Homo sapiens: one gene and its partners. The protein of the gene in region 3 purifies or fractionates together with the protein of the main gene of each other region. This does not show direct contact. Each region holds a gene or a part of one and is shown on either strand. Other genes may lie near its edges. The genes, in order: GPC6, NQO2, CENPF and NDE1.

Region 1 (7,547 bases), on a different chromosome or scaffold from region 3:
TTTTTTTTTTTTTTTTTAGATGGAGTCTCACTCTGTCACCCAGGCTGGAGTGCAGTGGTATGATCTTGACTCACTGCAACCTCTGCCTCCTGTGTTCAAGCAATTTTCCTGCCTCAGCCTCCCGAGTAGCTGGGACTTCAGGCACCCGCCACCATGCCCAGCTAATTTTTATATTTTTAGTAAAGACGGGGTTTCACCATATTGGCCAGGCTAGTCTTGAACTTCTGACCTTGTGATCAGCCCCCCCCCCCCCCACCCCCGGGCCTCCCAAAGTGCTGTGATTACAGGTGTGAGCCACCGCACCCGGCCTAGAGAACCTTTTTAAGAAGGACACAACCTGTGCTCAATACCCCTGATTCTCTCAGGTAAGGATGGCAATGACCCACGCCTTTTAAGCAAGCATGAGGTAGAAACCAACAATGAAAGTAGCTTTAACTCCAGGAATATGAAAGGCACAGGGGGTCCCTATGCTGCAGTCTTTATTTTAACTAAGAAAGCCCTCGCTAGGACTTTGATTGGGCTGGATGTTCAATGTTACGGTACTTTATAAGATGTTTTAACAGTCAGTGTAGTTTTCAAAGCTGCCAAACTAGTTATCTGAGTTGGGTAATTGTTGAGCTGTTTTGATTTATATTTTAGGTCCACTTGACCATCAGAAGAGTTAAATTACAGACGGCTAATATACGGGAGAGTCACTGGGAGTTGGGCTAAGCCCTGTGAATTTGATATCTAATTTGCTTCCTGTGAATATGGTGTCTAAGCCGAGTTGACAAACAAGGGGAAGCAGGCTTGATGCGTGTTTCTGTCTTAGGGATCATGCTTTGTTTCAAGGTGGCTGCAAGTTCAAAACTACATAATAAGAACCCAGAGTCCCCAGTCATTTATTTACTTAGGATTTTAATTTTGAAAAAAATTTAAGACACGAAGCAACTCCATCTCAGAATTAAAATTTCACATATATCCTTTATGCTGATAGAAATCTGTGGATTCCTGTTTTCACACTTGTTGCCAATTTGCACAATTGTTGTCAATACTCAGAGCACGCTTGGATAATTGAATTTGTAACAACAAAAACAAACTTATATATTAATACCTTCATTTTTCTGTCCAGTTCTTACAGATCAGGGTTCATATCATGACCTTCTTAGTGTGATTGGGTGAGTTATTAATTTCACTGTGTCTCATTTTATTCAGTATAAAATGGGCATTATTATGTTTATATCATAGAGATGCTATAAAGATGAAATATGGCTGGGCATGGTGGCTCACGCCTGTAATCCCAGCACTTTGGGAGGTTGAGGCGGGCGGATCACGACGACAGGAATTCGAGACCAGCCTGGCCAACATGGTGAAACTCCGTCTCTACTAAAAATACAAAAAATTAGCCGGGCGTGGTGGCAGGCGCCCGTAATCCCAGCTATTCGGGAGGCTGAGAGGCAGGAGAATCGCTTGAACCCCAGAGACGGAGGTTGCAGTGAGCCAAGATGGCGCCACTGCACTCCAGCCTGGGCGACAGAGCGAGAGACTCCAGCAGAACGAGACTCCGTCTGCCCCACCCACCCCCCGCAAAAAAAAAATGTTAGTGAGTGCGACCAGCAGGGCTGCTGTGTCCCACGAGGGTTCTGGCTTCACCAGGGGATAAGACCATAGCTTTGGCCATTAGGCTTAACATGGCTGCCCCAATTTTAGCGTCTTGCTCTTGCACCCAGGACCATGTTTGGCATGCGATAATTTCTCATTATCTATCTTTTGAAAAAAAGTGGATAATTCCCAAAGTCAGCTCTTCAGTCATCTCACCGCTCAGCACCTCACTGCAGTCACGCTGAAGTACAGGTCATTCCTGAACTGAGATCTCTGCATTTGCACTTTCTCTGCTTGGAAATTTCTATCCCCGGCTCTGCTCATGGTTGTCTCTTTCCCTGTCATTCATCACAGCTCCATCACCCCAGGCTCTCCTGGACCACTAACCTAAAGGAGAGTTTCCTTCCTGGTCGCTATCCCATTTCCTGTTTCATTCCTTCATGGCGCCTTTCACTTTCTGAATCTTCGTGTTCATTTATTGGCTTACATGTTGTCTGTCTCTTCCTCACTAAAGGGAGAGGGCGGAAATTTTAGTGTCTTGCTCTTGCACCCAGAACTGTTTGGCATGGGATGATTTCTCATTATATATCTTTTGAAAAAGTGAATAATTGCTGAGGTCAGTAATTTTGTTTTAATTAAAAAAATCCACAGATGCTTGTTCTTATTAAAGGGAAGGTGGCTTTAGTCAAGGTAAATATTCTTCTGCTCTCTTGAATCCAGTTTGTAATCCTTCTTTCACCTTCTCTCCAAACTTGAGCATTCACAGGGTAAAAGTCCCATTTTCCCAATTTCTCGTTTTGCTTTATGCTTCAAGGTATACATGAGCTTGCGCTCCTTAAGCAGGCTATAAAGGCAGGCATCTAATTCCTCCTGGCTTTGTTGCATGCCCTATTTATGAGCCAGCAAAATATGTTTGGCCACATGTTTACACCAGCAAAGAAATATGTCTATGGAATGGAAATGTGTCTGCACTAAGTCAGTTGTCAACGTCTATTTAAACAGACTTAAATTTGTGCCTGCATGTTTCTAGCTCTCAAGATACAAAAACACTTTATCCCTCATTGCCACTGTTTTACAAGTTGGATTTTTTAAATCAATGTAATTCTGTTACCACATTTGTGCATATACTTTAACTATATCCCTGTCCACTTATCCAAAGAGCAAATTAAAATAAATATTGTTGTTACCTGATAAAAGTGTCTGGTTTCATTTGGATGAAAAACACTTGGATGTTTTTCCTGCCCAATAAATTGGTTTCTGTTGCTTCCAAATAAAATTTGTTATATTTTGATCTTATAGATGGAATTATTCTAACATTCCTTAATTGTTTTGTAATAGTCACTTTTCTCAATAAAAACCAAAATAGTAATAATGTGAGCTAAATCACAGTATTTCTTACAGTTAAATGCTGTATTCTTGGTACCTTTGTTTGTATGGGTTCCTTTATTTATAAGATCATTCTTGAAATACATTATTTATCTGTAATAATTATGATTAGCTGCATTAAGGAATGAATAATTTTCAACTGGTGGTTTTTCACAGCCAGTGATAAATCCCCTAGAGCAGGGTTTATAGAGAATAAGAGTTCAATAAGCATTTGTGAAATAAATCTTTAGCAGGTTATACAATATTTAGCATGCCTGAGAGGATGGAAACATTTCAGAAGTATAAAAATCAATGCAATTGGCTAAATTGGGAAATTATTAGTCTTTTCACATTTGATCTTATTTTCTGACCTCATTTATAAAGTATTGACATCAGTTTTCAAGTCACTAAATTTATCCTCTGAGAAGAAATCAGTACAAAAGAACAGCGCTACAGTATTTTCCATACACATTTGGGAAGCTCTAAATGTTCTAAAGTTCAAATAGTTCCTGATTTCAGATGCTGAGTGTACTTAGGAGAGTGGCACTGTTTTAATATACGAGGTTTGTTGTTGTTTTTTAATATTGAAGCTTCTAAAAATGTCTCAAACACAAAAAATTCCATGGCTCTGAAATTTAGACTATGACAATAATTAAGAAAATGCAGAAAGGGCACTGGTAGATTTTTAAAAACTATTTTAATACAAGATTAATAGCAATTTTCTATCCAAATCAGAAATGAAAAATCTTAACCCAAATAATATTCATTTGACAGTCACATAAAATTTTAGATTTGATTGGTGCACACATTTATCCTGCATATATATTATGTATATGCACAGAGAGACCTCACTATTATGCCATTGTTAGGGGTCTTTTTTTGGAAGTACCTCATTACAAGGCAATGTCAAAGGTTCCAGTAACTACTCAACTTTGAATGAAGTTCAAAATGTCCCCATGCTAAGCTGAGTCTGTGCCATAGCAAACCATGATATAGCAAGTCTCCAGAATGTGTACAAATCAATACTCTCTTTGTATAAGTTGGTCTAAAACTAAACACTGGCTAATGTCTCCAACAAGGAGGAACACATTACAAATTTATAAGTTATGGTTTCCTTTACTCTTCTGTTGGCAAAGCTAAATTGTGTTTTTAAATAAAAATCAGGTCTGTTCGTTAGTAAGTAAATGGAAATGTGTTTAAATTTCTGCAAGTTTTAGGTAAAACTTGCATTTCCTAATGCGTCTAGGTTTAATCAAATCATTTGATAATTAGCTTTGCAAAAAGAAGTAATAAAAGAATCACATCTCAGGAATATGTTAAGGTTTTTTCCTCCTTAGGGACTTTAGTTCGTGTTCAGTCTGTAGCCGAAACATGTATGTAATGGCAAAAGAATTAAAGAAGGCTAATGTCTGCAGCAGGGAATATAAATTAAAAATCAGGGTTCTGCCTGTAATAATATTTTCAATGTGTTTGCTTTAAAGAATGTTACTTTTATAATTATTACTACTTATCAATGAATAATAATGTTTTTCAGTGTAGACAAAATAGTATTTTCTATCCCTTACATTTAAAGCAGGTGATACAAGTTACTTGATGCTAGCTAGGTAAGTCATTGTAAGGGAGACAGATTTCTAGTGCTAATGTTCTACGATGGCTATAATCAAAGTACCAACTTGGCCTTCGTGAAAATGACAGAAGGTTGTCATGGTTGTCCTTCAATACAGAACCATAAACAGAGCTCTTATTGGTAAATTTGTAATTCATTCTTCTCTGCTAAAGACTTTAGCCTCTGTTTAGCTTTTGTTGTGACACATACAAAGTATAATATATACCAATTACAGACGTGTATTTCTGTTAGAAAAATACATATTATAACTAAAGAACATGTAAATAGAGGCACTTCAATAAGCTAAGTGTTTGCAGTTATGAGCATCACCCACCAATTTCTAGTGTCAGGTTTCAGTGAGCCCATTCCTCTCTATTCATAACAAAAGTTATGATATGATTACAGAATTTAGGGAACATCAGAGCAAATGAGGGGCAGGTCATAAAAAATAATGAAGCCTCATTGCATCCCCTATCACTATGCTGAAATGAGAAAAAATAATTCGAGGGTTGAATTCCAAAATACTTACTGAAATAGGGTAACTAGGTTAAGTGAAATCCTTTAGGGCCAAAACATTTCTCATGTTAAATTAGTCTGAAAATCATATGACATAGTAGTATGATGATAAAAACTAGGAAGTACAACTTGAATGATATTTTGACCACATCCATGCAGGGTGCTAACACTGTGACATCATTAACTGATATCATTTCAGCTCTCTGCCTGGCTCATTATGCATCACTATATCTCATCAATATGAATCATATTGATAATGAAGGTGTTGAAACAAATGAAGCAGGCGTTTATATATTAACTGTGTGTTTAGTGCGTATAGAACATGGGTTCACATTCACTAATATTATGTGTATTCATACACATGCACAAAACCTTTTGGGGGTGAAAGCACAGGAAAAACAAGGCATCCTGATCTAGTTCATAAAAGAGAATGCAGAAATATTTTAAAAAGGAAAGACCTGGAGTTTAAAGCCATAAAAGCAAGTTATTATTCAAATAGTCTGGAAAATCAAGGTTGATTTAATTTGTATTGCACCTTAATTATTGGAGAAAGACAATACTGACTTCTGAACACAGAATGAAATGAGCAATGTAAATGACTGGTCCTTCATAGAGAAGTCTTATGTGGAATTTGTGGTAGGAAGCCAAAATGTGGGCAGTGAAATGGATGGTTTTCTAGGAGTATGTAATGATGAACTAGATGGTTAATTTCATAAAGGTTTAAATGAAAGAATGCCACAAAGTCTCTCATCATCCTACATTTTATATTTCATTAGGCATAAAGTAGCAATAGATGCTTGTAAATACTTTCTGTCTTGCAAAAGTGCTCAAATATACTTAATACTATTGTGCCACATGTGTTCTACTTAAATGTGATGACTAAATCAATAACTAATTTTAATTTTGATGAGAACAGATTGAAAAATACCATTTACGTGTCAATACTGTCGATGAGTTAATTAAAATGTAACTGGCCTACTATGGTGTCTTGAAACATTACTTTTCCCTACTCCAGATGCATCATAAAAACTAAGAAACATATGGATAGCCAACTGTATTCATAAAGCCCCCAGTTGGGTTTATTTTGCTTCTCTCTGTCAGGGGGAGCGAAAGGCCTGGCTTTGGCCTACTTGGTGAACAGGTTAGGCTGTGGCTCTAAACTGGCCTATTGAGTTAGGTAATGTATCCAAGTGCCAGGCAGGAATCCTAGGCCGAAGGTGTTTTACATGAAAGCAATGGTTTTTCATGAATAACATTCTTTACACATACAGTTTCCATCACCGGTAAAGCCCTGCACACCAATGGCTCATCCCATGAGTTTGGTGTAGTCTGGAGCACCCAGGCTGAAGCACACTCATGCAGAAGGGTGTGCCCTGGCAAATTTTTAATAAATGGACAGTTAGATACATAAAAAGTTCTCTTTCTTGATTCTTGGTGCTCACCGATCACTGAGGAATCCCTTCTTTGAGCAGCACAAAACAAGAAGAGCTGGTTGACAAAACATTTTCTTACAAAGGTGTGTCAACCCTGAGCTTGGAATTAAGAAGTTAAAATCTGTGATTTATATATACATAGATATAAAAATAGATGATCATACTAAGACTAAAAAAGTGAAAGAAATCTCCATGTCAATACTATATATATATATTTTTTGTCTTGACTTTTTTTTTCTGTTGTGAGTTGTTTTGTAAGAGAATGCCCTTGTGATGCAGAAACCAACTGACACAAAGTAAATAGTTAAAAATGAAAACTCAGGAATGGATCTAATTGTGTTTCAATTCATTAAAAAAACTATTGTTTTGGGAGGGTAATGAGCACAGGGGCAGAAACGTCTAGTTAATGTCAAACCTGTGGCAAAAGCAGAGATTGTATCATCAAAGATTATTTTCAATTGAGACTCTTGAGGAAGGTGAATTGATGGGGGTAGCTACTAGTAATTGAAGATGAAGGGGAAAATCTGTGCCAATTGGATACAGCGGACAGACATTAAGGGAATTAAGAATAATGGTGCCATTACTAAATTGAAATTGGGCAGAGTAAGACAGAGGTACTGAGTTGTAGTAATTTGTGTTCTCATATTAAAGACGGGATTCCAAATTTAGTATCAGTACCTCCAGATTAATTTGGTGTTGTTTGGTTAGAGTGCAAGATGATACCTCCAAGACAACAGTGCATTTTCACTACATTTAGAACAAACTTTAAGCTTTCTCCCCATAAGCATTTTTAAACCCGGATTTGTCACAAAAAAGCTTACACTGGAAGTTGGCTGTCAATGCTGAACTTACAGTGTTAAAGTTCATTTATTTTTCTCTGTTTGCTTTTTTGTTGAAAATGTAGCTGTCTTGGGGTTTGGCCCGATTTTACAAGGAAAATTATTTTCTTTCTTCCTTTTTTATTTTAAATGAGAAAAAAAAAACCCTCACAACGTGAGATTCCTTTACTTCTGCAGCATAAAAGCAAATGAAGGTAAGAAAATCTC
Region 2 (8,333 bases), on a different chromosome or scaffold from region 3:
TTTTTATTACATATATTTGCTTAGAAAGTCTTTGCAACTTTCTTATTAAATTTTTTTTTTTTCCTCTACTAAGCCACCACCTGCTTTTTGGCACTAGATGGTGGTTTATGCCCACGTTTGCCTCAGCTCTAGTAACCTACTGTTCAGAGTGTGCCAGTCCTGAATATGAGAGGTTCCAAAGGGGATAGCATGGTAGTGTGGGAAGGCTGGCTAGCAGCTCATGCCCAGGAAACCTGCAGAATGTACCTCCTACAGTGTGGTGCTGCTGAACAGCCACTCTGGTTTGGCATCTCCTTTGGCTAAGTTACAGATCAGAGTTTCCAGGGCTGGGGACAATATTCCCATCTCCCTCCTTTGTCTCTGGCTGTTGTCAGGGATATTTCTCCCTTTAGGCACTCCTGATGCTTCCTGTGGGTTGAGGCAGGAACAGGTCTCCTTCCTGCCTGTTTCTGGGAACCCCAGAAAATTGAGAAGCTGATTGTCCCCCTTGATCTCTTTTCCAGTGTAGAACCTGTGACTTGGGAGGAAATTTCCCACACAGCTGGTGCTGGGTAGTTTGTGGGGAGGGGTGTCGTGGATATGATAGTCCAATCTCTTACCGTCTGCTTGGAGTTGTTTCACTTATGTGTGGTCTTGGGAACTATTTCATCTTCATATTTGACTTCTGGGATACTGCTGGTGATAATCCCAGTGCTATCTATTTGTTTTTGGAAAGTGAAGCTAGCTTGCTTCTATAATGCCATTTTGCAGCTGGAAGTCAACATTTTTTAAAGTAAAAAACATAAAGATGGTTTTTATAAATAGAGCATTTATCCCATGACTCACCAGTGATATCTTTGTCTGTGGCCCTCGGCTCAAGGTTCATGGCATACAAATCAGACACTGTGACGGTGCAGCCCTGCCTGCTCAGTTCATCTACAGCCACATTCTTCAAGGATCCGTTGAAAGACTTGGGTTCCTGGTGTGCATAGACAATGAGTACTTTCTTACCTAAATCAGGATAAGAAACAGTTCCTCTTGAAGAACAACCTCTCTCTGTTAAATTCAATGAAGACTAAGATGAAAATTGAATGTTCAGGTGCATCATAGTAATTGAAGCTAAGAAATATCAAATTTTCTTTTCTTTCTGTCTCTTTCTCTCTCTTCTTTTTAGACAGTCTCACTCTGTCACCCAGGCTGGAATGCAGTGGCATGATCTCAGCTCACTGCAACCTCTGCCTCCCAGGTTCAAGTGATTCTCATGCCTCAGTCTCCTGACTAGCTGGGACTACAGGTGTGTTTCGTGGGAAGTCAGGGACCCCGAATGGAGCAACTGGCTGAGGCCATGGCAGAAGAATATAAATTGTGAAGATTTCGTGGACATTTATTAGTTCCCCAAATTAATACTTTTGTAATTTCTTATGCCTGTCTTTACTGCAATCTCTGAACGTAAATTGTGAAGATTTCATGGACAGTTATCACTTCCCCAATCAATACCCATGTGATTTCCTATGCTTGTCTTTACTTTAATCTCTTAATCCCATCATCTTCATAAGCTGAGGAGGATGTATATTGCCTCAGGACCCTGTGATGATTGTGTTAACTGCACAAATTGTTTGCAGAGCATGTGTGTTTGAACAATATGAAATCTGGGCACCTTGAAAAAAGAACAGGATAACAGCAATGTTCAGGGAACAAGAGAGATAACCTTAAACTCTCACTGCCGGTGAGCCAGGCGGAACAGAGACATATTTCTCTTCTTTCAAAAGCAAATGGGAGAAATATCGCTGAATTCTTTTTCTCAGCAAGGAACATCCCTGAGAAAGAGAATGCGTCCCTGAGGGTGGGCCTCTGAAATGGCCGCTTCGGGGCGGCAGCTGTCTTTTATGGTCCAGCTGTAGGGATGAAATAAGCCCCAGTCTCCCGTAGCGCTCCCAGGCTTATTAAGACAAGGAAATTCCTGCCTAATAAATTTTGGTCAGATCGGTTGTCTGCTCTCAAACCCTGGCTCCTGATAAGATGTTCTCAATGACAATGGTGCCCAAAACTTCATTAGCAATTTTAATTTCGCCCCGTCCCGTGGTCCTGTGATCTCGCCCTGCCTCCATTTGCTTTGTGATATTCTATTACCTTGTGAAGCATGTGATCTCTGTGACCCACACTCTATTTGTACACTCCCTCCCCTTTGGAAAATCACTAATAAAAACTTGCTGGTTTTACGGCTTGGGGGCATCACGGAACCTGCCGACATGTGATGTCTCCCCTGGACACCCAGCTTTAAAATTTCTCTCTTTTGTACTCTGTCCGTTTATTTCTCAGACCGGCCGACACTTAGGAAATATAGAAAAGAACCTACGTGAAATATTGGGGGTGAATTTCGCCCAATATCTGGCTGAATTTCCCCCGATAGATGTGTGCCACTACGCCCAGCTAATTTTTTGTATTTTTAGTACAGATGGGATTTTGCCATGTTGGCCAGGCTGGTCTTGAACTCCTGGCCTCAAGTGATCCACCCGCCTTGGCCTCCCAAAGTGCTGGGATTACAGGCATGAGCCACCGCACTTGGCCAGAAACACCAAACTTTCTTTTCTTTCCTTTTTTCTTTTTCTTTTTTTTTTTTTTTGAAACAGAGTTTCGCTCTTGTTGCCCAGGCTGGAGCAACGATCCCAGCTCACTGCAACCTCTGCCTCCCGGGTTCAAGCAATTCTCCTACCTCAGCCTCCTGAGTAGCTGGGATTACAGGCATGCGCCACCACGCCCGGATAATTTTTTGTATTTTTAGTTAAGACCGGGTTTCTCCATGTTGGTCAAGCTGGTCTCGAACTCCCGACCTCAGGTGATCTGCCCACCTTGGCCTCCCAGAGTGCTGGGATTACTGGTATGAGCCACAGCACCTGGCCCCAGAAATACCAAACTTTCTAATAGGTGGCAGTTTTAAAGCAATGGGCATTTTAAAAATCCAGTTATTCATAGCTCAACATCACAATACAATGGGTCAAATTATATCTCCTCAAAAATACCACCACTAAATCTTTTAAAAGCCCAACCTAATTTGGTTATCCTCTGTAAGAAGGTTTAGACCAGCTCCCTAACACCAAAATAAAGAACTGCTGGAATTAGTCTTCCATGCTAACCCTACATTTGCAGATATCAGCTACAGGCACCTTTCAGTGTGGCACAGTTCTGCTTCCATCTCCCCCAGTCCATCAAATCTGACACTTAAACAAAACATGAGGAATCAGACCCGCTGGTCTCATGGGAAGGCAGGGCCACATGGAGCCCATCTTTCAGTGGTGATGCTGATAACAAAGAGGACTCTAGGAAGAGTCAGGCCCTCCTGGCACTGGCAGTATCGTTCACACCAGGGGCTTCTGAAGCAGTATTTTCCTCATTGGAAAGAGTCTCCAGGCTTATATACTGACTTCGTCTGGGAGGCAGCCTGGTGATTTGCTTAATTAAATTTACCCTGGTCACCTTTAAGAAGATGTTAAACTCTTGATTTAAATTTTTCATAATGACACTTTAAGGAAAAGATACACGTATCAGTTTGAAGCAATGGGTTTCAGGGCATTGAGCTGGCTACAAAGGTTGAATTCCATAAGTTAGATTCATGGTTAACATTTTAATTTTACTTTCTCAGACTCTTGTTTCAATAAAGGAACTATACTTAGGGGCTTAACAGGAGAATAGATGCAAATGAAATACCTACACCAATGGTTCTCAACTGGGGCAGTGTTGTGCCTGCTAGGGGACGTTTCTCAATGCCTGGAGACATTTTGGTTTGTCACAGCCGGTGGGGGAGGGGTGCTACTGGCATCTGGTGGGCAGAGGCCAGGGATGGTGCTAGGTGCTAAACAGGGTGCACAGGATGACCCCCCAAAACATAGGATTATCTGGCCCAGAATGTCAGTGGTGCCAAGGGCGAAAATCCGAATCTACACCATAATGTATAGAGTAAGGTGAACCTGTGCGTTCTAACACGAAAGGCTCTCCATGTTATATCGTTAGGTGAAATTAAAAAGTTGAGAGATTGCATGTTCATGTATATGTGCATGATAAGCAGTTGCAAAAGCAAAGATAGAATCGTACTGAATTTTTACCCAAGATGCCTCCTGGGGTTCATTCACTTGAGCCCCTGCTACAGCCCAGGGAGAATTTCAGGGCCTGGAGGCACAGCAAAGACAGGATAGGCAGGGCCCCACTTTTGAGGAACCTAAATTCTGGAGGGAGTCGAAAGGAACAATGAAACAAGTGAGAACATAGAAAACAAGATAATTCCAGATAGTTTATACACTTCCACGTGGCTTGGATTTTTTACAACAATGTATCCAATTTCTGATTAAGAGTCTAACTCCCACCTGGAAGGTCAATGTGGGAGGGTCACTTGAGCTCAGGAGTTTGAGACCAGCCTGGGCAATACAACAAAATCCCATCTCAAAAAAAAAAAAGTCTTACTCCACAATAGTGAATCATTACCTGCCATAGCGTAAGAAGGTGGATTCCTTCTCTCTGATTTGATGGGTGGCTGGGGCTTTCCTGCGTAGTCTCTCTTCAGCGAGTCCAGCAATCTGGAAGACAAAACGAACCCAGAGGGGGTGGGGAGAGGCATAGGTGAGGTCGAATGTACCACATCTAGGCATCACTGCTGCTTCCTGACAGACACGCAAACACATCAGAGAAAGACCTCTCAAGAGAGGCCAGGAATCTTCTGGAGATTTAGGCCTCAGAGGACAAGCCACGCAGGATGTCAAAACCCATACTTTTTTCCTTTTTTGAGAGGACTCTGAACCTTCCATCCAGACAGTCATACAGCAAAGGACCCAGGAAATGAGCCACGGTAGGAAGCAGGAGTTGAGCCTCCTTGGCCTTCCTGCCTTCCCCAGTTTTCCCCGTAGATCGAGCAGAAGGCTGGGGGATCAGTGAACCGCCACACCACCAATGGGTGCGTGCACTCCTCGGCTGGTGCCAGACTCTGGTGGGCCAGCACTGGCAGTTGTCGGCCCTTCCCCTCACTTGAAAATAATGGGAGTTGGCTTAGACCCAGGCTCTAACCAGAAGTCTCAGAGATTCTCCAGGGATGCAGCGGAGGCCAGAGGAGCAGAGGAGACCCCCGCATCAGACAGACTTGGTGCAATTTCCAGCTCTGCCCATTGTAGCTGTGGGCCCTGCAGCACATCCCTCCACCCCTCTGTGCCTCAACCTCCTCATCAACAAAGTCACAGCATGGCCCAGAAGAGTGAGAGAGAGACAGTTGCTATGTGCGGTGGCTGGCACACAATGGGGCTCTGGAAAAACGTGAGTTCTCCCCAGGGGAGCCTTTGGCCTCACCCCCTCCTGGCCATCTCTGAAATTCTGGCTTCCTTCTGGGAGATACAAGGAGACTCCAACAAACCCACTCTCCCTACCATAAAAAAACAGCTCAGATAAAACTTAACAACAACAAAGCAAACAACTCAATGCAAAAATGGGCAGAAGGCTTGTGTAGGCTTTTCTCCAAAGATGTATGAATGGTCAGTAAGCCATGAAAAGATGCTTAGCATCACTAATCATTAGGGAAATGCAAATCAAAACCACAATGAGATCCCATATCACACGCATTAGAATGGCTACTACTACCAAAAAACAAAACACACGTAGGTGAGGATGCGGAGAAGTTGGAACCCCGTGCACCGCTGGGGAAAGGTCGAGTGCTGCCGCTGCTGGAGAGGTGCTGTGCCCCCAAAAATTACAATTAGAAAAATGAGAATTAACATATGACTCAGCAATTCCATTCGTTACTCTGAACCCAAAAAACTGAAAGCAGGGTCTTGAAAACCACTTGCCCACCCATGTTCAAAGCAGCATTTTCCACAACAGCTAAAACATGGAAGCAACCCAAGTGTCTATCAGTACATGAATGAAAACAGCCAGAAAATTCTACCCTTAAAAGTGGCTAAAATGAGGTCAGGCACCGTGGCTCACACCTGTAATCCCAGCACTTTGGGAGGCTGAGGCAGGTGGATTACCTGAGGTCAGGAGTCCGAGACCAGCCTGGCCAACATGGCGAAACTCCGTCTCTACTAAAAATACAAAAATTAGCCGGGCGTGGTGGTGTGCACCTGTAATCCCAGCTACTCGGGAGGCTGAGACAGAGCGAGACTCTGTCCAAAAACACAAAAAACAAACAAACAAAAAAAGTGGTTAAAATGGTCAATTTTATGTGAGATGTTCTGTACCACAGTAGGAAAAAATGGGATAAAAAAACAATGCAGAGAGTGTGACTAGGGCTTAGTGTGAAGACACGCATCGCGCATGTTGTGTCCAAACGACAACGTGAACCTATCAGTGTGTCTTTACAGCAAAACAAAAAGCACAGAGACACACAAAAGTGGTGCTTATCCCCACCAGGACTGGAATCTTGAGCAGGGCCTGAATGAGCATCTTCCAGGGCCCACTCCTTATCTCCAGCTGTCCAGGAGCACAGGCACAGGGCTGGGGTCTGCAGAATACTGCAAGAAGTGAGGTGGGTGCTGAGGAGTGGGCTCCACCCAGGCCAGGTGCCCTGTGGATGGAAAGGAAAAGAGGCTACATCATTGTGGCTGAAGCTGAGTTGGGGGCAGGCATGGGACTTAACAGAGTGGGGCACTGTCACTCCCCAAGAGGGCAGACAGCTCTGATCACTCCAAACACCCAAAGGTGACTTCAAATCCTTCCCCATTCGCTTGACTTCACTGGACAGCTGGGAACCTGCATCTTTAGTGACTGAATATCCCCACTCTGGTTCCCCAAGGACAGACCCTGAATTGATTCCAGGAATCCACGTGTACAGGTAAGCACTACATTTCCTAGGCTGCCTTGCAGTTGAGATGGCCAGTGAGGTGTCAGCAGAAGTCACAGGCGGGGCTTCCAAGAAATACCCTCAAGAAGCGAACTCAGCTGGGGCTGGGAGGTGTGGGAGCTAGCTCCCTCTGGCTTTGTCGCTGGCTCTCTTCCCAGCTGGACTGTGGGATGATGTTAGGGCTCAGTCAGCCTTCTTGTCGTCCTGGGGATGGAGGCTATGCACCAAGGGCAGGGAGCAGAAATACCAAAGGAACCTGGATTCCCGGGGCTCTCTTGGGGCTGCAAGATGGTGGTGGATTGGCAACTGCAGATATTTGTGTTTATGTATTTTCCATGCAGAAACATCTACAATGGCACTGAGTCTGTAGCGAGGGCCATGCACTGTCTGTCTGAAAGTGCTCCAGGCACAGGCTTTGTGTCCAAGTACCTTGCTGTGTTTAAGGTACATCACAGCACCGGAGAATGTGGGAGAGGTCACATTCATCCCTTCAAAGCGCAGGGAGGTTCCTATTCTGACACCAGCAACACTTACAAGAATGAACCTAAAGCTGGGCAGTGAGGAAGGAAAGGAAAAAGAAAGTTTATGAATACAGGTAGTATTGTTTGAACCGGTAAGTTGCACTATAAATCACAATAAAAGATAGTCTGTATATCACTAAAACAGAAGAGTTGGCCGCCCTGAGGATGAGGCCTTTGGGTCTCCAGGCATTTGCCAGCTCTCCTAGCCTAGGGGCAGGGGCGCCTGCACAGCCCTCTGCTTTTCCTAGAATTCTCAGCAGCGAGCATGTGTCAGGGAGAGACATGGTTGTCTTAGCACTGAGGCTGAAATCCTGGATGTTCTTGGGAGGGCAGTGATTGTGAAGAACAAGTTACTTGTCTAGTTCCTGGGGGTCACTCCTCAAAGCCTCCCGATGAGGCAAGTTTACAGGATCCATGCTCCCTGAGCCAGCAGTGACACCCACACTTGGCAGTGAGAAGTGGGGCTGTAACTTACAGGGTGAGCCAAAATGGCGGGTCTGGAAAGGGATTATCTTAAAGGAAAAAGAGAGGAGAGTGAGTGACTTCATCATTAGCTGGGAGGCTCTACAGTGCCCTGGTGGACAGTCACTGCCTGGAGGTGACTTTGTAGAAAGCAAACTTTGGCTATCACAATGCATAGGGAGGCCTGGCAAAGCCCAGGGAAGCAGAAGGCCCAGCACTTTGAGAGGCTGAGGCAGGAGATCACTTGAGCCTAGGAATTTGAGACCAGCCCGGGCAACATAGTGAGATCCCATCTCTACCAAAGATTTTTAAAAATTAGCCAGGTGTGGTGGTGCATGCCTGTAATCCCAGCTACTCAGGGGGCTGAGATTAGAGGATTGCTCCACTCCAGACTGGGTGACAGAGTTAGGCTCTGTTTCAAGAAAAAAGAGAAAGTAAAAGAAAAAAAAGAAAGCCTGTTTGGCTGAACTGTGGTTCAAAAAAAAAAAGAGTGGATGGTGGTAGATGCAGTCAGGGAGGTGGGAGGGGTCTGACCTGACCCCTCCTAGGGTAGG
Region 3 (8,333 bases):
AAATTGGAAGTATCATCTAAATCCCTTTTCTAACTGTTGGCATTTGTGTCTTTCAATATTAAAAACACGTGGAAAGTCATAGATTTAAATAAACAAAAGTAGTGACAGATAAAGAGTTTCTAGATTAAAAATTCTTATAAAAACATCAAGCAATTGTCAATTATATGACTCTGGCTTCAAAAGTGGACACTGACCTTAATGTTCAGCCTGTGCATGCCCTGGTTGACGGTGTCTTTGGAGACTTTGTTTTGTCCACAAAGTGGTGGATGAGGGTTCCTGAATGGCATGGATGCCCTGATGGGATTTTATGCATACATACTTCAATTTGGCTTCTCTCTGAATTTATTTAGTGGCCTGGATTTTATTTTAAAGGGCTTAATTAAGAACCATTCAGTGACAGTTAATAGACTGAAACAATTTGAAGAGAGCCATAAATCAACATTGTAATTTTAAGAAGAGGAACAACACAAGAATGGTAGAAATTTCTTCTCCATCAAACCCCACAGGAAAGAATGTTTTTCTGTTTATTCTTTAAATGTTCTATGATCACTTTTTAGGCTGTAAAGATTAAGAAAACTTTGTCCATAAAGAACAGTTATTTGTTCAGGTGAGGAAAGTCTAAATGTATTTATCCCCACCGCTTTGCAGAGTGTATCATGATGGTAAAATCAGAACATCTGTCAGTAGCAGACAGGTGATTGTTAAATCAGCTAACCCCAAAGGGGCAATACTGCTGGAGATAGGGGGCTGCAGCTCCAGCCACAAAGTGGAAGAAAACTTCAAATCAGATGATAGTTTCATCAGCAAACGTTTTCAAATGGAAGTGTTTGTTTCAGCAAAACAAATGTTTGCCTTTTGGCCAGTGGGGACCAACCAACAGATGCTTCTGCTAACATTTCCACAGGCAGACTGGCATCGAACTCTTCCCTCTGTGAGCTTCCCTTTCAGCCAGGAACTCTCCCGCGACTCCACTGGCTGCCTGGTGGAAACATTTTGTAAAAGCAATCATCTGGTTAAGAGAGTCCAAACACTTTAAAAACTGCTTGCTTGGCCAAGTCGCAGTAGTGGGCTGGACATTGTCTTGCAGGTGTTTCTGAAGACTTGTTCATCCCCACGAGGTCTGGTCCGTGAGCTGTAGCGCTGTCCTCAGTTAATCCCAGCCTGTACTGAGGTGCATGCATCACATTTCACTGGTATATCATTGATGTCTGTGTCAAATGAGGGCATCTGTGTGAAAGTGTCTAGCACCGGGCCTGGGGATGAAGTTAATATTTGTCTTAATTTATGGTTATGTTTATGTATGTGTCATCTTTTGAGGGTGATAGCAAGATTTCAAAGAGTTTGGCTGGCTCTTGTGTTTTGCATTGGGATTGGGACCAGATAACTGATGAACCCAGTTAGAGTGGTGGTGTAACTTAGTGGGAAAATGGTAGTGGCTTTAGAGTGAGTGAGATCTGAGATTGTGTTGCTTTTCTGCCACCTACCACAATGTGACCTTTAGACAGTGGCTTACCCTTTCTCAGTCTGACTTTCCTCATCTGCATATAGGGACAAATCATTCTCCTGCCTTTTCAAGGCTGTATTCTTGGTTAAGTTAAATATTGTATGTAAAGTGCTTAGCCCAGTGCCCAGCACATAAGTGCTCAGTCAGTTATTGCAGTCCAACACCTGCCCATTGCCTTGGTCTTCATCACTGCCATGACCTTTTGATGTTAGCATTGTTTGCTGTCACCTACAGGCACAGAAAGTGTGATCAGGGGACAGTGCACTTGAGATTTCTCATATTTATAATTTTGCCTGTTCTATTACTGTGTCACTCTGGGTATCTTTCTGTGTCTAATTATATGTAAGCACTAACAAATTTAGGACGCTTATAGGTTTTGGATGCCGAAATAATGTGACAGTTGTACTGAAATTTTCCTTGTCTGTGTTTAGTAAACATGCTGCTCACAATGAGAAATTATCAGTACTGGAAATGTGATTTAATGGCCCAATCAAGGGTAAAGTTAACATTTAGTATCAAAGTGAATGGAGGGTTTAGATAAGCTGCTCGTCCACTATCCAGTGCCAGCCCCATAGCATTGGGGTTAGGCAATAAAATACCATCGTTTGACAGTCAAGATGAGGGAACACTTGCCTGGGGACCTTTCCAAGCATAGGGATCTGTATTACACTAGGTCCTCTAAGGAGCTGGCTCTGGCAAGCAAGAGAGATGAGGAGGAAAGGGAAAAACACATTCTTTGCATCCATCCCTTATCCAAGTATATAGGCTTCGCCCAGCAGGGGACGTATTAAGCTATATTCATGGATGGGATCATGAAATGCCACACAGTAGCTGAAATTTGTTTTGTCTGGCCCTAGGAAATGATGCCTCCCTTGCTGCTCCTAAAGCGAAGTTGATCTGGGTGGAATTGCTTGCTAAGCTCTAATGCTGGCTTGTGGTTATAGGGATTTTTGTTGTGCTTTTCCAGCATAGTACCCAATTTTGCAAATCATGTGAGGATGCAGGAGATGCCTAGGAAAATGTATCTTTGTATGCTTAACTCATTGTTGATAATGAGATACCCAATCAAGTCTTAAGTGGCTGTAGCCTCGTGGAAAACTAATTGCTGATGGATGGCAGCTTGCACATCCATTTTCAGATGTTCATTTTCTAAATTCTGGCCTTTTAAAATTCTTGGGTTGGTCATAGCCATAGCATTATAAGCCTGCTGGGTCCCAGGATTGGCTGAACATTTCTTCGTTAGACACAAATATTTACGGAGCTAATGCCAGAATAGAGAAAGTCATGTTAATCTTTCCATTGAGCTTACTATTCATTTAAATGTCTCCAGTTATGGACAGACATGGATCGAGACCAACAAACACATAAACATAAAATTCCCCATCTTTCCCTGGTGCCCTCTCTCTCTTCTTTTTTCCTTCCTTCCTATTGGGACGCACCTAGTTTTGCACAGTGTCTTTCCAGCTTTCTTGTCAAGCCTCCAGATGCAGGTGTCATTTGATTTGATTAAAAAATTTTTTTTTTAGAGTAAGAAAATATTTTTTCATTTGCAAAATAAAAATGCTAAGTCGACCCAGGTAATTACATTCTAGTTCCTCTTCTATGTTGACCTCATTCAGCTGATCTTAGCATTGATTACAGAGATCTGGCTACTGTTAAATTTTGGGAGGAAATACTACTAATAATGCTACATTGCCCCTGTCAAAGTGCTTTAAGATGTTTGTCCTTTCACATCTGTGATCTCATTTGAGGGGTGATTATTCTGAGTCTGAAGAACAAACCAGTCATTATACGTTCCATAATTTAATGATGCTAATTTAAATCAATAACATTGTTGCACCTTAATGATCGTGCTTTGCAAAGTTTAACACTGACTAGTGTGAATGTTAGCCTATCAATCTTGAGATCGGTTGGAGCTGCCCTTTAGTTCTGATTGATATCTTAATTCGATAGAGTGTCAGTTTAGCAGCAGGGAAGCAGGATCAGGACACGGTAGATGGGAGTATAATAACTACAACAGGTTCTGTCTTATTTTAATGATGAAATGAACGCATATACATGAACGGAGCAGCTGCCAGCAAGTTTTCAAGTACTTTCTACTAGCCAGATTCTCCCTCTTCTTGAATTTGGCTTTGCTACATCGGTACCCATCTGCTGGTAGTAACCAGACTGATAATTGAAGGCAGCCTTCCAACACAGTATTGCCACGGCCATCTGTTTTCTAACAGTGCAGTAGGGTTTTGGAGGATGGGTCTTAATTGTTTCTTTAAGATTCAGAATTTTTCCTCTACTTCACAAAGGGGTAATTTTGGTAGGTTTGAAATGCAGTTTAGAAAAAAGTTAGCTTTATATGATTTTTCCCCGCTTGAGGATGTGAGGTGCTTGGTTCTCTTAGCTTGTAATGATTTATGCCAATTCCCTGTGGTCCAAAGGGTGGCATACAGTATAGGTTGAGATACTTGTTTGTTATGTGAGTCTTATGTGGTTAATAAGCAAAAAAGTTTTTCTTTGGCATGTAAATATTGCTTGCTTTTAAGATTCAGAACATATAGGCCTCCCTAGTAGTAGAATGGAACTACACATGTACCTGTGTTACTTTATTGCATGCTGTTGCGTGGATGTCTCTTCAATCAGATGCCCAAAGAACCTGTTTTCACTGTGAAAGCTCAGAAGCTAGAATTAATTCTTCCTCTGTGTTCCAGCCCTCTGATTTCCCATAGCACACTCAATGTCTCTTTAGTATTTAGCATATCCTATTGTGTATTAAATGATTAGTATCACATCTTCCCCCACTGGAGGATGTCTGCCCCAAGGGCAGAGACTCTGTCTTATTTATATTTGCATTTTTTGTAATGCACATTCCAGCATCTTGAATATTGTTGGTTTTCTTGATAAGCATTTATTGAAGGTAATTTTTCCCACAGAATCATTCCTGTAACAGCAAACCTTAAGATGGTTTTGCAATGAAAAGTAAACATATGTGCTGAGATTTTTTTTTTTTTTTGGTTTATTAACAAATCAAATGTTTGCAAAGGTATATTTGGCCATTCAGGTGTGATAGGAACTTGGAGGTTTTGTCTTGAGGATCTTGTAGATAGGATTTTCCTTTTGAGCTTACTCTTTAATAGGCGTATGAACAATGAGAAAGTTCAATGAAACTTCTTGAAAGAAAAAATTATCTTCAGATTTGGGTTTGATGCTGTTGTCTTCTGTTCATAACATTATTTAAGTAAGAATGTCTGACTTCATTAGGTACTCAAACGGGGAAATTGTGATTCTTTCCCTAGTGAGATACACAAACAGTTCTGCTAGGGACCTTTATTAAGGCAGAAGTCATAACTTACTTGAGCATTCGTTTTGGCTATAACCAATTAAAATGTGTGTTTTAGGAAATGAAGAAGGAAAACAACCTCCTTAAGAGTCACTCTGAGCAAAAGGCCAGAGAAGTCTGCCACCTGGAGGCAGAACTCAAGAACATCAAACAGTGTTTAAATCAGAGCCAGAATTTTGCAGAAGAAATGAAAGGTAAGTAAACTTAGTATTTTAGAGTTACCTTTCTAAGCTGCTATTCCCGTGAGAGGGGATGGATGGCATTAACATATTAGAGAAACTCTTTGGATTTTTTTTCATATATTCCCTCAAAAAGATGTGCGCAGTTGATGTGGAAGAGTTTTCCCTCTTCTAGTTTTTAGTTTCCAGAGTGAGAGTGGGACTTTTTTTAATTGGAACATATTGAGTCCCAAACGCCTGATGCTCAGCACTTTGAAATCAGAAGGGTAAATATTTTCCACACAAAGCTAAATTGTCAGTGCTGTCTCTCACCCCCGAGTGCTATTCTCTGTGTCTCTAGTGTGCTTGTTAGTTACATCCAGACAGCTCATCTCCTGACTCATTACCATTTCCCTTATAATGGAAAAACCCTATATTAAATGCATGTTTTCCAAGCTCCTAATGACCATTGTTTTTTGATGACTTACTTGACTGAATGATTTTATTTTCTTATTTTAAAGCCAAAGAATTCTGCTCTACACATCAAATGAATCCACTCTTGGTTTCATATTTGTATGTTTGTGCCGGATGTCTTCTACATACCCTTTATTTTCTCACCTGGGGTGTTTGCATATCTAGAATTTCTTTGAACTCTGTCCTGTGGAATGTGTGTCACACTTCTCTGTGACTATTTTTTTAAAACCCCAATCTTGGTGTGGTGGCGGGTGCCTGTAGTCCCAGCTACTCTGGAGGCTGAGGCAGGAGAATGGCATGAACCCAGGAGGCGGAGATTGCGCCACTGCACTCCAGCCAGGGCGACAGAGCGAGACTCCATCTCAAAAAAATAAAACAAAACAAAAACCCAATCTTCCCAAGACAGCTTTTAGTTTTTCCACAGCAGCAGATAGAAATGTCAGTTTTCAGCTTTCTTGAAGGGAAACTGTAAGAAAAGGAACAGTTGGGGCATTTTTCAGTGTTGATCACCCAGGTGATTGTTTGAGTTGCTCACAGCAAAGTGGGATGAAGCCCTTGTGGTGCTGTCTACATAAGCCCTTAACTATAAGTAGGTAGATTGAGATTGACAGCTTAGAAGTTCGTACTGCTTTCCACTTGATATGATGTCTGAGATTGTAATACATGTTACCTTTATCATCTACTGTGGAGGTTCTCAACTTTCAATCTCCCCCAACATACTTGAGCAACATGAAGCCTTCTTATCACTGTTTAATGAAAACATCGTGGTTATTCCCAACCAGGAGGGGCCAGTATGTATAGATGAGTCATTAGGCAGAAGACAGGGGGTAACGGAGTTTGAAGAAGCTTCCAAATGACTGTGACATTCATAGACACTGCCACCCTTACTATGAGGGGCTGGGATGGGGGTGATAATGTTCCTCAGGAATATTCACATATAGGCCTTGAGAATTACTGATATATGGCATCATTTACTCTTTTCTACTTAAGTCTAATCCTGTGGATGTTTTAGCTAAAATGGTGGAGTACTTATTTACTTTTCTGAGACATCAGAATTACTCTACAATAAAGTGGGATGTTCCCATTTCAGTGCTGTTCTTGTCCCAGTTTTCTCTCTTGGAATAAATATTTGAAAAGATGGTAAAAATATACACATATGTAAACACATACAAAGAAAAGAAACAGTGCTTAGGAAAATCATCCCTTGGTATTTTATTCAATAACATGTTCTTAAGCTGCTAGAAAGAAGATGAACAAATGTGTTACTCTCCTTAAGATAACCATTTTTCTCATTTTTATATAAGATAATTACCAAGTGATCCACTTTCTAGGAGGTACCCAGGCAATAATGCCAGTTTTTCCAGGGCTTGAGTAGTTGTTAGTTTGTTTGGATTTTGCCAGGGGGCGGGGGGAGGGGTTAGCGTTTCTGTAGAATAAACATTTATTACAAACATTGACGACTTTTATTTATTTTTAAATAGCGAAGAATACCTCTCAGGAAACCATGTTAAGAGATCTTCAAGAAAAAATAAATCAGCAAGAAAACTCCTTGACTTTAGAAAAACTGAAGCTTGCTGTGGCTGATCTGGAAAAGCAGCGAGATTGTTCTCAAGACCTTTTGAAGAAAAGAGAACATCACATTGAACAACTTAATGATAAGTTAAGCAAGACAGAGAAAGAGTCCAAAGCCTTGCTGAGTGCTTTAGAGTTAAAAAAGAAAGAATATGAAGAATTGAAAGAAGAGAAAACTCTGTTTTCTTGTTGGAAAAGTGAAAACGAAAAACTTTTAACTCAGATGGAATCAGAAAAGGAAAACTTGCAGAGTAAAATTAATCACTTGGAAACTTGTCTGAAGACACAGCAAATAAAAAGTCATGAATACAACGAGAGAGTAAGAACGCTGGAGATGGACAGAGAAAACCTAAGTGTCGAGATCAGAAACCTTCACAACGTGTTAGACAGTAAGTCAGTGGAGGTAGAGACCCAGAAACTAGCTTATATGGAGCTACAGCAGAAAGCTGAGTTCTCAGATCAGAAACATCAGAAGGAAATAGAAAATATGTGTTTGAAGACTTCTCAGCTTACTGGGCAAGTTGAAGATCTAGAACACAAGCTTCAGTTACTGTCAAATGAAATAATGGACAAAGACCGGTGTTACCAAGACTTGCATGCCGAATATGAGAGCCTCAGGGATCTGCTAAAATCCAAAGATGCTTCTCTGGTGACAAATGAAGATCATCAGAGAAGTCTTTTGGCTTTTGATCAGCAGCCTGCCATGCATCATTCCTTTGCAAATATAATTGGAGAACAAGGAAGCATGCCTTCAGAGAGGAGTGAATGTCGTTTAGAAGCAGACCAAAGTCCGAAAAATTCTGCCATCCTACAAAATAGAGTTGATTCACTTGAATTTTCATTAGAGTCTCAAAAACAGATGAACTCAGACCTGCAAAAGCAGTGTGAAGAGTTGGTGCAAATCAAAGGAGAAATAGAAGAAAATCTCATGAAAGCAGAACAGATGCATCAAAGTTTTGTGGCTGAAACAAGTCAGCGCATTAGTAAGTTACAGGAAGACACTTCTGCTCACCAGAATGTTGTTGCTGAAACCTTAAGTGCCCTTGAGAACAAGGAAAAAGAGCTGCAACTTTTAAATGATAAGGTAGAAACTGAGCAGGCAGAGATTCAAGAATTAAAAAAGAGCAACCATCTACTTGAAGACTCTCTAAAGGAGCTACAACTTTTATCCGAAACCCTAAGCTTGGAGAAGAAAGAAATGAGTTCCATCATTTCTCTAAATAAAAGGGAAATTGAAGAGCTGACCCAAGAGAATGGGACTCTTAAGGAAATTAATGCATCCTTAAATCAAGAG
Region 4 (8,442 bases), on a different chromosome or scaffold from region 3:
AGATTGGGTAATTTCTAAAGAAGAGAGGTTTAATTGGCTCACGGTTCTGCAGGCTGTACAGAAAGCATAGCAGCTTCTGCTTCTGGGGAGGCCTCAGGAAACTTACCATCATGGTGGAAGGCAACGGGGAGGCAGGCATGTTTTACATGACCAGAGCAGGCAGAAGAGAGAGAATGGGGAGCTGCCAGACACTTTTAAACAACCAGATCTCATGAGGGCAGCACCAAAGGGATAGTGCTAAACCATTAGAAACTGCCCCCAAAGGCCGGGCGCGGTGGCTCATGCTTATAATCCCAGCACTTTGGGAGGCTGAGATAGGCGGATCACCAAGTCAGGAGTTCAAGACTAGCCTGACCAACATAGTGAAACCCCATCTCTACTAAAAATACATAAAATTAGGCTGGGTGCAGTGGCTCACGCCTGTAATCCCAGCACTTTGGGAGCCCGAGGCAGGCAGATCACCTGAGGTCAGGAGTTTGAGACCAGTCTGGCCAACATGGCAAAACCCCGTCTCTACTAAAAATACAAAAATTAGCTGGACGTGGTGGCGGTCGCCTGTAATCCCAGCTACTTGGGAGGCTGAGACATGAAAATCACTTGAACCCAGGAGGTAAAGGTTGCAGTGAGCCAAGATTGTGCCACTGCACCCCAGCCTGGGCAACAGAGTGAGACTCAGTTTCAAAAAAAAAAAAAAAAAATTATGGTTGGAAGAGTGAGGCCCCAGACAGAATCACTGACCCTCCCCATGCTTGGGGTTCATTAGACGTGAACAGGAGCTAGAAGCCAAGCCCATTCCCAGCCAGGCCTCTTTGGGAAGACGCAGTTATTAAGACCACCAGCAGACGGCATGTCCATTACTGACCCGCACAAAGCAGGTAGAGGTGCAAACCTCTGCCCATCTCAGGTGCAGGGAAACAGAGGCCTTTGCCTCTAACAACTTGAATTCTGATGTAGAGACCTGGTTCCATCTGCTTGTGGGGGAAACGTTTAACATCAGCTCCTACCTGGGCTCCCCAGGCCCTCGTGCGGTTTGGCCCCAGTTCTGGGGTCTTAGGCTGGGCTAAGGTTTCTGGGAGCCCATGTCCCCTAGGGTCCCCGCTTCACTGCTTTGTTACCACCAAGAGACTCCCTGTCCCCATCTGAGGTCTGGCAGCTCTTAGTCATGTCTTGGAGGGAGGACGGGCATCCAGGGCTGACCGGTCAACGTCCAGCACCTCCCAGGGACTATGGGAAGACTGAGTGGTGGGTCTCGTCCTCTCGGGATACTTGCGCTTCTCTTTCCCCTTCTCTACAACCTGGAAAGAAGCCCCTCACCGCGTCCTACTTTTGCCCAACACGCTTTTTTTTTTGAGACAAAGTCTCACTCTGTCGCCCAGGCTGGAGTGCACTGGCGGGATCTCGGCTCACTGCAACCCCCGCCTCCTGGGTTCAGGCAATTCTCCTGCTTCAGCCTCCTCAGCAGCTGGGATTACAGGTGACTGCCACCATGCCCGGCTAATTTTTATATTTTTAGTAGAGACGGGGTTTCACCATGTTGGCCAGGCTGGTCTCAAACTCCTGACCTCAAGTGACCTGCCTGCATAGGCCTCCCAAAGTGCTGGGATTCTAGGCCTGAGCCACCGCGCCTGGCCCCAACACACTTTTTTTTTCCTGTAGGGCAACTCACATGCCTACAGGAGCTGGTTCCATAAAATAAGTTTCCCTTAACTAGGACAGAAGTAGCAGTGTCAATCACACGACACCTGTGAAGGACGGGGGCGGTGAAAGGTGACTGCCCCACCTGCAGAGCCAGCCGCTACTTAGATGTGGCAGATTGTTGCCTTGAAGGAAAGCAAGACCCTCTGTTTCCAGATCTTTCGTTGTTGTTGGTTTTTTGTTTTTGTTTTTAAGTTTAGGATTACTGAGGCATATGTAGTAAAATTTATCCATTTTACTGCTCCATTAATTTTAACAAATGTGTATTGTGTAACTACCACCACCACAGTCACCACATAGAATGTTAGTTATTGATTGATTGATTGAGATGGAGTCTCACTCTGTTACCCAGGCTGGAATGCAGTGGCATGATCTTGGTTCACTGCAACCTCCACCTCCCAGGTTCAAGCAATACTTGTGCCTTAGCCACCCCAGTAGCTGGGACTACAGGCGTGCGCCACCATGCCCGGCTAATTTTTCCATTTTTAGTAGAGATGCAGTTTCGCCATGTTGGCCAGGCTGGTCTCGAACTCCTCACCTCAAGTGATCCACCTGCCTTGGCCTCCCAAAGCTACTTATTTCTGAAACAGGGTCTCACTTTGTTGCCCAGGCTGGAGTGCAGTGGTGTGATCATAGCTCACTGCAGCCTCCAATTCCTGGGCTCAAGCAAGCCTGCCATCCGCCTCCTGAGTAGCTGGGATTGCTGGTGTGTGCCCCCCACACCCAGCTAATGTTTTATTTTAGTAGAGATGGGGGTCTCACTACATTGCCCAGGCTGGTCTTGTACTCCTGGCCTTAAGCGATCCTTCTGCCTGCTTCCCAAAGTGCTGGGGATGACAAGTATGAGCTGCCATGGCATGCCTTCAAACATTAAAGTTTTTTGAAAAAGAAGCTGGGAATCCAGATTTTTATGTGACATTTATTAAAATGTCGGCAACTCATTTTTTTAAAAGTAGTGAAAGGGTCAAAGGGGACATGTCAGCAGGTTGGATACCGCTTGTGGGATTCCAGATTGCAACCCATGAGCTTTAGGAAAATAGAATCCAAAATATCAGCTGGGTGCGGCAGCTCACGCCTGTAATCCCAGCACTTAGGGAGGCCAAGATGGGTGGATCACTTGAGGTCAGGAGTTCGAGAGCAGCCTGGCTAACATGGTGAAACCTCGTCTCTACTAAAAATACAAAAATTAGTCGGGCATGGTGGCGGGCGCCTGTAATCCCAGCTACTTGGGCAGCTGAGGCAGGAGAATAGTTTGAACCTGGGAGGCGGAGGTTGCAGTGAGCCAAGATTGTGCCACGGCACTCCAGCCTGGGTAACAGAGTTAAGACTCCATCTCAAAAAAAAAATAACAACAAAAAAACCCCAAATCTCTTACTGGTGATTGTGTGCCCCCTGTTGTGTGCCTTCCTGGACCTCTCTGAGGGAGGAAAGGGCAGGGCCTGAAACGTTCTCCCGGCCACAGCCTCCCTGTTATCCCTCCCCTCTGCTTCCTTCGCCAGGCCAAGGCGAACCTAGACAAGAATAAGCAGACGCTGGAGAAAGAGAACGCAGACCTGGCCGGGGAGCTGCGGGTCCTGGGCCAGGCCAAGCAGGAGGTGGAACATAAGAAGAAGAAGCTGGAGGCGCAGGTGCAGGAGCTGCAGTCCAAGTGCAGCGATGGGGAGCGGGCCCGGGCGGAGCTCAATGACAAAGTCCACAAGCTGCAGGTGAGGAGGTGGCGCGGTGGTGTGGTGGGCAGTGCTGGGTGGTGCCCAGTTCTGTGGGGAGGAGCCTCTTCCCGGCTCGCTGAGGTCTCTCTTGCTGCAAGGCAAGTCCTTTCCTCTAGTTGCGTTCCTGGAGGAGAGGCGATGATCTCCCTGTTCAATTAAATATTAAAAAAACCTTCTGGCCAGGCACGGTGGCTCATGCCTGTAATCCCAGCACTTTGGGAGACAGAGGTGGGTGGATCACCTGAGGTCAGGGGTTTGAGACCAGTCTGGCCAACATGGTGAAAAGTCTCTACTAAAAATACAAAAATTAGCCAGGCGTGGTCGTGGGCACCTGTAGTCCCATCTACTCGGGAGGCTGAGGCAGGAGAATAGCTTGAACCCAGGAGGCAGAGGTTGCAGTGTGCGGAGACCGCACCATTGTACTCCAGCCTGGGCTAAAAGGGCAAAACTCTGTCTCAGGAAAAAAAAAAAAAAAGAAAAAAAACCCTTCCTTTTCCAATTTGATAAGTATTTATTGAGCACCTGCTGTATGCCAGGCACTGTGCTTAATCCTGAGATCCAACAGCAAGGAAGAAGAGACACTGTCGCTGCCCCAGTAGGACTCCAGCCGAGTAAGGGGAAGGGAAGGGAAGGGAAAGACATGAATAATCACACAAATGAATGTCAAATGATGCAGCAAAGGGAAGGCACATGATGCCCAAGTGTAAATAACCAGGGGGCCTAACCTGGGGGAGGAGGAGCCACGAAAGGCTTCCCTAAGGAGCATGGATAAGTCTACCAGGCAGAGGGAACAGCGTGTGCAAAGGCCCTGTGGTAAGTAGAAAAATTAGGAGAGAGACATACAGCCAGTAGAGCTGGAGTGCCCAGCTGGGGTTGGGGGTAGGGGGAGATAGTACAGAGTGGGGTTGGAGGGGGAGCTTGTACCCAGATGATGTAGGGCTTTTGAGAACCTATTACATGTATGTTGATCCTTACTCTGGGCAATGTGAAGCTGTTGAGGGGTTTTAAGCTGCTGAATGACATGGTCTTTTTGTCTTTGGTCTTCTTTCACTTGGCATAGCCATTTACCCTGCCTTGCCACTCATGGGGACGTGGCCAAAGTTTTCACAAATGTTTAACATGTCCACAGCCAGGGACCAAGGGGCGAGGGAAGAATTAAGTGAGATGTTTTTTTCTCACATGCAGTTGAGAGCAGGGCTTTTGCCGCCCTCATATAAGCAGTGTCAAGATCATTCATATCCTCCTTGTCAATGGAAGAGATGGAGGGGTAGGCTAACAGCCTCAAAGGGACTTATGCAGAGACACTAGGGAGTAAAAGCCAGAGAATACAGAGAGGACGTTTTTACCTTTAGGGCCTGCGTCTCTGGCTTTGGCCATCAGGGTCAAAGAGTAGGAGTGAGGAAGGAAGGGATGGGACAGCATCCCTGGGACGTTCAAGTACCATCCTGGTCTCCCTTCTCCAGCCTTAGAGAGTGGACCAGCCAGAGCACCTCGTCTGGACTCTCAGACCTGCTGCTTTGTCTCTACCAACCTTGGCAGGGATCTAGGATCCATTTAGTGGGATCAGGTCCCAGTCAATACCATTGGGGCTCAAATAAGTTCTTAGAACCACAGAGTCTAGGGCCAGGGTCCCAACTCATAGGTGACGGAGTTCCCTTCAAGCCACAGATTCTGTTTTTTTTGTGTGTGTGTGTGTTTTTTTTTTTTTTTATCAGAGTCCCATACCTCACGGGTATTTTCTCAATCAGTGAACACCTCAAGTACTAGCCCATGTGTTTTGAGTAAAAAGGGCTCCTTTCAACGAGGATCCCCTTCTAGAGGCTTTGACTAACCAGTCTCTTGGCACCCTTAGAATGAAGTTGAGAGCGTCACAGGGATGCTTAACGAGGCCGAGGGGAAGGCCATTAAGCTGGCCAAGGACGTGGCGTCCCTCAGTTCCCAGCTCCAGGACACCCAGGTGAGTGTCCTGCCACATCATCCAGGGGACCTGGGGGGTGGCCTTCCTCGGGGCAGGTCCCTGGGACCTCTTTGCATCCCTTTTGCAGGAGCTGCTTCAAGAAGAAACCCGGCAGAAGCTCAACGTGTCTACGAAGCTGCGCCAGCTGGAGGAGGAGCGGAACAGCCTGCAAGACCAGCTGGACGAGGAGATGGAGGCCAAGCAGAACCTGGAGCGCCACATCTCCACTCTCAACATCCAGGTGCCTGCCCCGTGTCCTTGCTTCCTTCATGGGTCCTCTCAACTTCTCTGCGCTGAGATCCCCCGCAGGCAGATCGCGGTGGAGTGTTGGTGCGATGGTGCTTGACCCCCCAGCTTCCCCTGCTATTGGGTTTCTCCAACGAGGAGACATGGTCTTCGCTTCTCAGAGTCTGTGGGGCCAGGGACAGGGGCCACTCATGGTCCCCCTCTCACCCTACCCTGGACGCTGTCCTTGTAGCTCTCCGACTCGAAGAAGAAGCTGCAGGACTTTGCCAGCACCGTGGAAGCTCTGGAAGAGGGGAAGAAGAGGTTCCAGAAGGAGATCGAGAACCTCACCCAGCAGTACGAGGAGAAGGCGGCCGCTTATGATAAACTGGAAAAGACCAAGAACAGGCTTCAGCAGGAGCTGGACGACCTGGTTGTTGATTTGGACAACCAGCGGCAACTCGTGTCCAACCTGGAAAAGAAGCAGAGGAAATTTGATCAGGTAGAGGGCGTGGGGTGTCCCCCACTCTGGCCATGGACGCTGGGTTGGGGAATCAGCTCTGCAGAGTATGACGCGTGGCTCTGGCCTGTGCCTGCATCCCCTCTCCACTCTGTGGGGAGCCATGGGAGGCTGTCTTATCTTGTCTTGGGCGACCATGGAGCATTAACGCTACCAGGTCACAGTAAGGATGGCAAAGAAGCCTTGATGACTGTGACTTTTCTGGGTACCAGCACCATGAGGGTCACCTGCACACATGGTGATGCCTTAGTTTCTAGCCTGAAGAAGGAATGAGGTGCTTATTTATTCACTAAATGTATTTACTGAATACCTATTGAGTAGTATTCCAAGTAATTCAGTTTCTATACTTTTAATACCACTCTTCCCTAAGATTTCATTCTGTAAAATTCCAAGTACACAGCAAAGTTGACAGAATTGTACGGTGAACACCTTTAAGGCCACCACCTGGATTCAGTCATTGACACTGTATTATATGAACTTTATCAGATACTTATTTTGAGACAGGATCTAGCTCTGTCACCCAGGCTGGAGTGCAGTGGTGTGATCTCAGCTCCCCGCAACCTCCACCACTGGGTTCAAGCGATTCTCCTGCTTCAGCCTTTCATGTAGCCGGGATTATAGGAGCACACCACTATGTCTGGCTAATTTTTGTATTTTTAGTAGAGATGGGGTTTTGCCATGTTGTCCAGGCTGGTCTCCAACTCCTGGCCTCACATGATCTGCCTGCCTTGGCCTCCCAAAGTGCTGGGATTATAGGTATGAGCCACTATGCCCGGCCCACATATTTATTTATAAAGACTAATTCTATCTATCATGCCTTATCTCTTGGGTACATTTCAGAGCAAATTACAGATGTCAGTACATTTCCCCTTCCACACCTCAACATTGCATATTAATTAGAGTTTATTTTTAAACACAATTTTGCTTCTTTTGGGGTAAAACTTACATGTGATGAGATTCACAAATCTTAATTGTACGATAAATGGAGACCCCTGTATGACCCAAACCCCTAAATACCAACTTTTAAGATACATTATTATTTAGTAAATATGATTTAGTTTACAAGTGACTCAGGGTTATTCTAAAAATCAGTTTGAGAGGCCAGGCACGGTGGCTCACGCCTGTAATCCTAGCACTTTGGGAGGCTGAGGCAGGTGGATCACTTGAGGTCAGGGGTTTGAGACCAGCCTGGCCAACATCGTGCAACTTTGTCTCTACTAAAAATACCAAAATTAGCCGGGCGTGGTGGCGCACGCCTGTAATCCCTGCTACTCTGGAAGCTGAGGCAGGAGAATCGCTTGAACCCAGGGTGGGGTGGAGGTTGCAGTGAGCCAAGATTGCGCCACTACACCCCAGCCTGAGTGATGGAGTGAAAACCCTGTCTCAAAAATAAATAAAATGAGGATTGTACAGTGAGGCTAAATGCCAGATGCCTGCAGGTTCCCTACCCCTCCCTGACTGACCTCCTAGTGTCAGGATTCTAGATAACATCCCAGTTTCTCCTCTTCCCATCAGCTACCTCTCCTCTGGGCTGTCAGCTCATCTTCAATGCTTCGTTATCTGGTTGAAGGCCTGAGGTTGCTTTTATTTTCCTGTCACATAGAGTGTAGTGCAGTGGCACACATAGTGTGGGATTTTTGTGTTGACTGTGCCATTTAGAGGTCCCTGTCTTTGCTGAATACTGGAAGTTTGGCTTTTGGATGTTACAATTTATAATCTGCTCTGTTCTCTCTGAAGATGAGATTAACGTGAGCATGGAATGTTCTCTGAGTTGCTTCTCCAAGCAGAGAGATATGTGTGCAGGGCCACCCATGCTTACCATTTCCCTACTGAGGCTCTTAGGATACTTTTGTAAGATATTAATAGCTACTTGTGGCCATGAAACAAACTAATAACTAGCTTCTGGCAGCTTTAAATCTCACTTTGACCTCAGTGTGCTCTAAGCAACGTGGGCAGGTCTAGTGGTTTCGAAGCACAAGGATTTGGCCAGGTGTGGTGGCTCACACCTGTAATCTCCGTGCTTTGGGAGGCCGAGGCAGGAGGCTCACTTGAGGGTCAGGAGTTCGAGACCAGCCTGGTCAACATGGCAAAACCACATCTCTACTTAAAATACAAAAATTAGCCAGGTGTGGTGGTGGGCACCTGTAATCCCAACTACTCTGGAGGCTGAGGCAGGAGAATCGCTTGAACCCACGAGGCGGAGGTTGCAGTGAACCAAGACTGCACCATTGCACTCCAGCCTGGGTGACAAAGTGAGACTCCATCTAAAACAAACAAACACACAAACCAACAAAAAAAAACAAGTCAGCTGATTTCTGGCTCTGCATAAGGTTGAT

Evidence for each region.
Region 1: the proteins of CENPF (region 3) and GPC6 purify together in Homo sapiens (co-immunoprecipitation; one large-scale study listed by IntAct). This does not show direct contact.
Region 2: the proteins of CENPF (region 3) and NQO2 fractionate together in Homo sapiens (co-fractionation; one large-scale study listed by BioGRID). This does not show direct contact.
Region 4: the proteins of CENPF (region 3) and NDE1 purify together in Homo sapiens (pull-down; one study listed by IntAct). This does not show direct contact.

What each region holds. Positions count from the first base shown.
Region 1 is NC_000013.11:94,403,479-94,411,025, reverse strand, and holds the end of GPC6 (glypican-6 precursor), read right to left. Parts: 3' UTR 3,006-7,547; downstream 1-3,005. UniProt on the Homo sapiens protein: Cell surface proteoglycan that bears heparan sulfate. Putative cell surface coreceptor for growth factors, extracellular matrix proteins, proteases and anti-proteases. Enhances migration and invasion of cancer cells through WNT5A signaling.
Region 2 is NC_000006.12:3,002,682-3,011,014, reverse strand, and holds part of NQO2 (ribosyldihydronicotinamide dehydrogenase [quinone]), read right to left. Parts: intron 7,347-8,333; exon of another isoform or gene 7,226-7,346; intron 6,521-7,225; exon of another isoform or gene 6,364-6,520; intron 4,548-6,363; 5' UTR 4,463-4,547; coding exon 4,456-4,462; intron 991-4,455; coding exon 826-990; intron 1-825. UniProt on the Homo sapiens protein: The enzyme apparently serves as a quinone reductase in connection with conjugation reactions of hydroquinones involved in detoxification pathways as well as in biosynthetic processes such as the vitamin K-dependent gamma-carboxylation of glutamate residues in prothrombin synthesis.
Region 3 is NC_000001.11:214,632,973-214,641,305, forward strand, and holds part of CENPF (centromere protein F), read left to right. Parts: intron 1-4,893; coding exon 4,894-5,029; intron 5,030-6,948; coding exon 6,949-8,333. UniProt on the Homo sapiens protein: Required for kinetochore function and chromosome segregation in mitosis. Required for kinetochore localization of dynein, LIS1, NDE1 and NDEL1.
Region 4 is NC_000016.10:15,721,807-15,730,248, reverse strand, and holds the end of NDE1 (nuclear distribution protein nudE homolog 1), read right to left. Parts: intron 6,089-8,442; coding exon of another isoform or gene 6,059-6,088; coding exon 5,998-6,058; coding exon of another isoform or gene 5,840-5,997; 3' UTR 5,603-5,839; coding exon of another isoform or gene 5,450-5,602; 3' UTR 5,362-5,449; coding exon of another isoform or gene 5,257-5,361; 3' UTR 3,896-5,256; downstream 1-3,895. Other genes in the region: MYH11 (myosin-11), read left to right, coding at 3,195-3,401, 5,257-5,361, 5,450-5,602, 5,840-6,088. UniProt on the Homo sapiens protein: Required for centrosome duplication and formation and function of the mitotic spindle. Essential for the development of the cerebral cortex.